Linked DNA regions of Homo sapiens: region 1 is linked to region 2. The links come from fine-mapping of genetic effects on gene expression. A gene starts in region 2. The other region holds a variant in brackets. All regions are shown on one strand. Distances are between the middles of the regions. Region 1 has its middle 12 kb from the start of PGC. Region 2 holds the start of FRS3 (fibroblast growth factor receptor substrate 3).

Evidence for each region.
Region 1: its variant is fine-mapped to the expression of FRS3 in sun-exposed skin (GTEx, PIP 0.96).

What each region holds. Positions count from the first base shown.
Region 1 is chr6:41,758,413-41,761,313 of GRCh38, forward strand. No RefSeq gene overlaps it. Among named protein-coding and RNA genes, the nearest start is that of PGC, 12 kb to the left of the region's middle. The variant G/A (reference allele first, on the strand shown) is at 1,335.
Region 2 is chr6:41,778,299-41,781,199 of GRCh38, forward strand. It overlaps FRS3 (fibroblast growth factor receptor substrate 3), which reads right to left and starts at 1,602. Exons shown (of 7, transcript NM_006653.5): 1 at 1,518-1,602. It overlaps PRICKLE4 (prickle planar cell polarity protein 4), which reads left to right and starts at 2,484. Exons shown (of 8, transcript NM_013397.6): 1 at 2,484-2,528. RefSeq lists silencers at 1,328-1,477, 1,508-1,917, 2,198-2,267.

The DNA of each region.
Region 1 (2,901 bases), 20 kb before region 2:
TATAAGCCTCTCTCATTGATGCCTGACATAGTTGAGATGTTTGTTGGCAGGGTCAGGCTGGAGTTTCTTCAGGAAGTCTGAGAGTGAGAGCCGCTCCTGCATTTCTTTAGCAGGACCCTGGCAGGTGGGAGTTCAGCTGATTTCACTCATAGCCCAGTTTCTCTTAAGTCCAGCCAACCACGAGTTAAGGCTCTCCAGCCAAGGTTAGCATGAGGCCTGGGGCTGAGATGGGCCACAGTCTCATTGCTTTATTTAATCATCTCTTGCTGCCATCAGTGATGGATTCAGTGGAGAGACAGGGTTGAACGTGACGTACGAGAGCAGGAAATCTAATCTGCTCCAAGAGAAATCTAATCTAATCCCTGGATCCAGGGAAGGAAGGAACTCCTGAACTTTGATGTCTTTCAAGACCCGGCAGGTTAGCCAGGTATGGTGGCATGCGCCCGTAGTCCAAGTTTCTCTGGATGCTGAAGCAGGAGGATTGCTTGAGGCCAGGAGGTTGAGGCTGCAGTGAGCTATGATTGAGCCACTGCACTCCAGCCCAGATGACAGAGCAAGACCCAGTCTCAGAAAAAAAAGACCAGGCCTGGAGGACACTCACACTTGACACCCCTGTCCCCACCCCTGATCACCCCCTGACTCTGTACCAGAGCAGCCCTTCAGAGAAATGGAAGCCAGTGACGGCAAGGAGCAGCCGCTTGCTCATGGGCAGCTTCTACCTCTTCACCAAGGCTGGAGGGAGAGACCCCACCATAGCCCAGCCATGAGCTTAGGAAGCAGCAGATCAGGGTAGAGGGGCCTTTATTGAGGAGGAAATGGGAAGGCAGGAGCAGCCCTGAAGAAAGCAGGGGGAATGATCCAGGCAGGGGAGGAGTGTGGGCTGGCGGGGGTCTGGATAGGACTCTTTGTAGGGAGCTCCCAGACCTGTTCCAGAGGCGCCAGGAGGAACCCATGCTCCTTTGCCTTGTTCTCCCAGTACCCTGTGGGAGTTGGAGGGGCAGCAGGAGGCAATGCAGGTAAGAGAGGCCATGAAGGAGGGGTTGTTTGGACTGAGCTGGATGTGGTCCCAGACTAGGTCTCTCTGGGTGGGGTTGAGAATTGGGTGGCAGAAAGGGGAGAGTCCAGTGTCCAGGTTCCGGCACATCAAACGCCAAAGAACGTAATCACCAGGGCCTGGATAAGGAGCAGGAACCGAGCCTAATGCAAAAGTCCCAAACCAAACACTGATAATGGGCTCAGGAGGCTCTAGGCCTGGACCTCACGCTTCCACCCCGTGGCCCCTAGTCAAGCCTCATATGGATACGGTTACAGTCCCAGGTCCTTGGAGCCAGCTC[G/A]GATCCTGGCCAATCTAGTTTGGGTTCTGGAGAGGTGTGCCTGTGAGCAGCAGTGTGCCACTGGCCACGGCTCTCCCTGTGCTCAGGGACTCCTAGTGTGGGACACCAGGGGCCCATGACGGGGGCTGGGGCTGAGCAGCCTCCAGAGGGATGCCCCTTGGTAGGTATGTATAGCACATCAACTCTTCCCAACATCCCAACATCCAGAGGGACTGGCTCTGTGTGCCCATTGTACAGTGTGGAAAACTGAGAACTAGAGCAGATAGGGGGAACCCCAGCCTCAGGGGGTCTTCATGCACCCCACAGTGATGGGGAAGAGAAAGGATCCAGAGGCCTTAGATGAGCCTTAAAGCCACCTGCATTGACTTCCTGCCTGAAGATCCCCTTTTGCTGATTCTGAGGTTACCTGGGAGGTGTGTGTCTGACTGTGCCTGTTTCCTGCCAAGTCTGGGGACCCTCCCCCAGCCCCGCTCAGATTCCAGGGAGCTGAGTCTCTGATCCTAAAGTTCCAGGAGGATCTCTGAGAATCTCCACTTTTTCCCTTTGTAGGAGAATGTTTCACTGCTGCCTAGTGCTAGGACCGAGGCCCCAGGGGCTTGTCCTCCAGGGAGTCTGTCTCACTTCTGCTGTGCTCTCTCTGCTGACTCCCCAGACCTGCTCTGGACATGAATATGCCCTTCCACCCACAGCACTGCTGCTGCATGTCCCAAAGCCCTGGGTGTGTGGTGGGGCTTGGCATCCAGGTTACACTTGATCACAGGTCCAGCAGACAGCAGAGACCAAATCACAGGGACAGGAGCAGTGAGATGGGGCCTCCACAAGGCCTGGCCTTGCCCTCAGGAGTTCGGGGCTGGTGGAGTGCTTGGCGGTGCCTGAAGGACCCTGCTCTGCAATCTCTGGCTCCAGGGATGGGTCACAGTGTCAAGGGAACTGTCCCCCCAGGCTTCCAGCTCAAATCTGCCCCTCTTACCCCCAAATTCCTTTCCCATATTAGTAAAAGTTTTCTCTTCTTCCAGTTGTCAGACCCCAAACCTCAGAGTCCTCCTTAATCCTCTTTTTCCTTTTCCCATATCCTACTTATATTTCGATTGTCAATGCCCTATTGGGTCCACCTTCAGAATACATCCCAAATCTGTCCACCTCTCCCCTTTTCCACTGCCACCACCCAATTCCAAGCCACCATCATCTCCCTCTAGATTATAGCAGTAGCCTCCTATCCTAGTTTGGGCTGCTGTAGCAAATTACCAAGTACTGGGGTGCTTATACGATAAACATTTGGCTGGGCGTGGTGGGTCACACCTGTAATCCCAGCACTTTGAGAGGCGGAGGCAGGCGGATCACCTGAGGTCAGGAATTCAGGACCAGCCTGACCAACGTGGAGAAACCCCGTCTCTACTATAAATACAAAATTAGCCAGGCATGGTGGCGCACACCTGTAATCCCAGCTACTTGGGAGGCTGAGGCAGGAGAATCGCTTGAACCCAGGAGGCGGAGGTTGCGGAGAGCCGAGATCGCGCCACTGTACTCCAGCCTGGGCAACAAGAGCAAGACTCTGTCTCAAAAACAA
Region 2 (2,901 bases):
ACACCAATGAAGAAAGTAAAATCAAGGGCAAAGGGAGCACAAATCCCAAGCCCCACGGGCCCTGAGAGGGACAGACACCAAGAACATCAATAAGTTTGAAGTCTAAGACGACCAAAGACCTTTTAAGTCACTTTAGATCTCCCTCTGAGTCCTGTTACAACAAACACCAAAACCATCACCTTACCTTTGCAGAGAACTTTAACTCTACAAAGAGCTTTCTCAAAAGGACACTGTGATATAGTAGAGACAGCACTGGTTTAAGACTCAGGAAACCAATATATCGGTCAGTTTTGTTGCTACTAAGTATCTGGGAGACTTAAGTCAACGCCCCCCCCAACTCCCACCTAAGGCCTTAGTTTTTGGGGGAACCATCTATAAACTGGGGAGCTTCTAGCTTAAATAACTTGCAGAGGTAAAAACGTAAGACAAACTTCACTAAAATTGACATGTTCATCTTCCAAGACAGGCTGCTTCAATTTCGCATTTGGAAGCTTGATAGATTTTCTGCTCCCCAAGCTCTGAAAGGCCTAATTTTAACATAAATGTTAACAGTAAGCCAAAATTTCAGGATATCTGAGCCCAAGGTAGACAAGTCAACAAGCCAGGACTCTGCAGACCCTGGACATCCCACATTCCTGCTCTGGAGAAACACTTCCCAGGGCCCCTTGCACCCTGCATCCTTGGACAACTTCCAGGTAAAAGGACCCCATCCCCTTGGTCTGGCTTATTTTCTGGAAGGAAGAAGCAGGCTCAGGGAGGTGTGCACAGACTAAAGATAGGTTGCTGGGAAAATACTGGGGCTTGAGCCACCGACGGGGGCACGGCGCGGGCACTGAAACGAAGAACTCTAGGGTGCAAGATGGGGGAGGGGCTGAATTTCCCTATCACCATCTCTTCTCCTTAAGATATCAGGATGTATCAGATAGCCCACTGAGGAGGGACTGCATTGAGTGGAAATGGGGAGAGGCCTCTGGTCTGGGATAGGTATGGATCAGGGGCAGGAGTGAGAGGGGGGTGTGGGGGCTGAAAACGTATGAGGACGTTTGGGGAAACATGAGCAAGAATTTTGGATGTGGGCATTTTGGATAGTGCAAGGAGAATGGGGATATGAGGGATCCTAGGAATTTCCGGGCAGTGGAAGCATTTGGGGGCATCCAAGAGAAATGGTGGGTCCGTGGGCATAGCAGGAGATTTGTTGAGTGAATGAGGGGGTTCTGAGGGCTCCAGGAGATGCGATGATGTGTCCAGGGCGGAGAGGGTAGAGGTGGGTTGGGGGAGCCAGAGGCTGCAGGACAGGCTACAGGACTGTCAAGGGGAATTTCTACATGCCCGTAAGGAATGAGGAGGTCTGGGTGCGCGCTGTCCCCGGATCCCCGCCCCCAGCCCCGGTGCTCCGCCGCCTGCCCGCCCGCCCGGGGCTTCCTAGGGAGGGAGTGGAGACTGCGGCGCGGCGCGGCGCGGCGCGGCGCGGCCTCGGTGAAGCCGCCTCGTCCCCGCCCCGCCGCGCCCCGACTCACATCGCCCCGCGGCCCGGGCGGCGCCGGGCCCCGCTCCCGGGTCCCGCTGCAGCAGCCGCCGCCCGCCCGGAGCTAAGGCCTCCCCGCCCCGCCCCGCCCCGCGGCCGCGGGGTCGGAGGTCACCGGCAGCACCAACGAGACGCTGCGGGCTGGCGGACCCGAGCGGGGGCGACCGGCACGCAGCCTAGAAGGTCCCTTTGGAGGACTTTGCAGTCGGGAGCAGTGAGCATGCGCAGACGCCAGAGGGCGCTCCTGGCCAGGGGCTGAGCAAGCCCGGAGGGGACAGGGCGGAGCCTGCGGCGGAGGCGGGGCGCGGAGGCGGGGCTGAGGACACCAAAGTTGGGGGTGGTCCGGGGAGCGGAAAGGGGACGGAGGGTTGGGCGAGAAACGAAGGGAAGGGGAGAGGGTCTGAAGGGACCTGAAAGGAGAAGGGCAAGACGATGGAACCTGGAAGAGGGTTGAGGGGAGGGGAAGGGGCCAGGGGGACCACTGGGGACAAGGGGGAGAGAACTGAAGGGAAACACGCGGAGGAGCGGGGCTGGGAGACCACAGGGAGAGTTTGGGGAGACCTGGGAACTGCGGAGAGACAGGGCTGCGGGCCCGGCGAGGCGTTTCCATTCAGCGAATGGTTGAAAACCCAGCGTAAACGCGGCTCCCGGCGTCTGCTGGATGCCTGCCGGGCGCAGTCCGAGCCAGAGAGCCCTTGCACCTGCATGGCAGAGGCCATGGAGCCCGCACATTTCCACCCTGAGATCCCATAAATGTGGTTTTGTTTTCCTTTTTTTTTTCCTCCCCCCAATCTGCAGCTCCAGGCCCCTCCCTGAGCCGCCCCTCTCCACCAGCCGGGGAGGGGCGGGCGGGGGCCGCTGGGGCGTGGGAGAGGAAGGGCCGCGCTATTAGGGCGGGCGGGGGCGGACGGGGGCGGGCGCTGAAGCCTTGGGGTGGGGACCGGGTGAGGGGCCTGACGGCAGAGTCGGTCCAGAACTGCCCGGACAGCGACGCACAGCGAGGGTGAGACCCCAGCGGAGTCCTGGTCCCCTCCCCTAAAATCCCAGCAGCCAGACCGGGAACCCCAGCGGACTCGGGAAACACCGCGTCCCAGCCCCGGAGGCGGGCCCGCCAAGTTCCAGAAAAACTCTGGGGATCTATCGAGAGGGCAGTTGGCGGGACTGGGCACTCCCCTTCCTTCTCCCTCCCACTGTCCCCAGAAATCTTCCCATCCCTCCACCTCCCCAAGCCCTAAGTCCTCTCGGGCTCTGCCCTTCAGGGCAGCGGGTGTTGGGGATGTCCAGCTCCTGAGCCCTCTTGCACGGAGGCTCTGCACGGAGGCAAGACAAGGGGTTCAGCTCTGTCCCTTATCTGAGGTGGGAGGGGGAAGGGAATT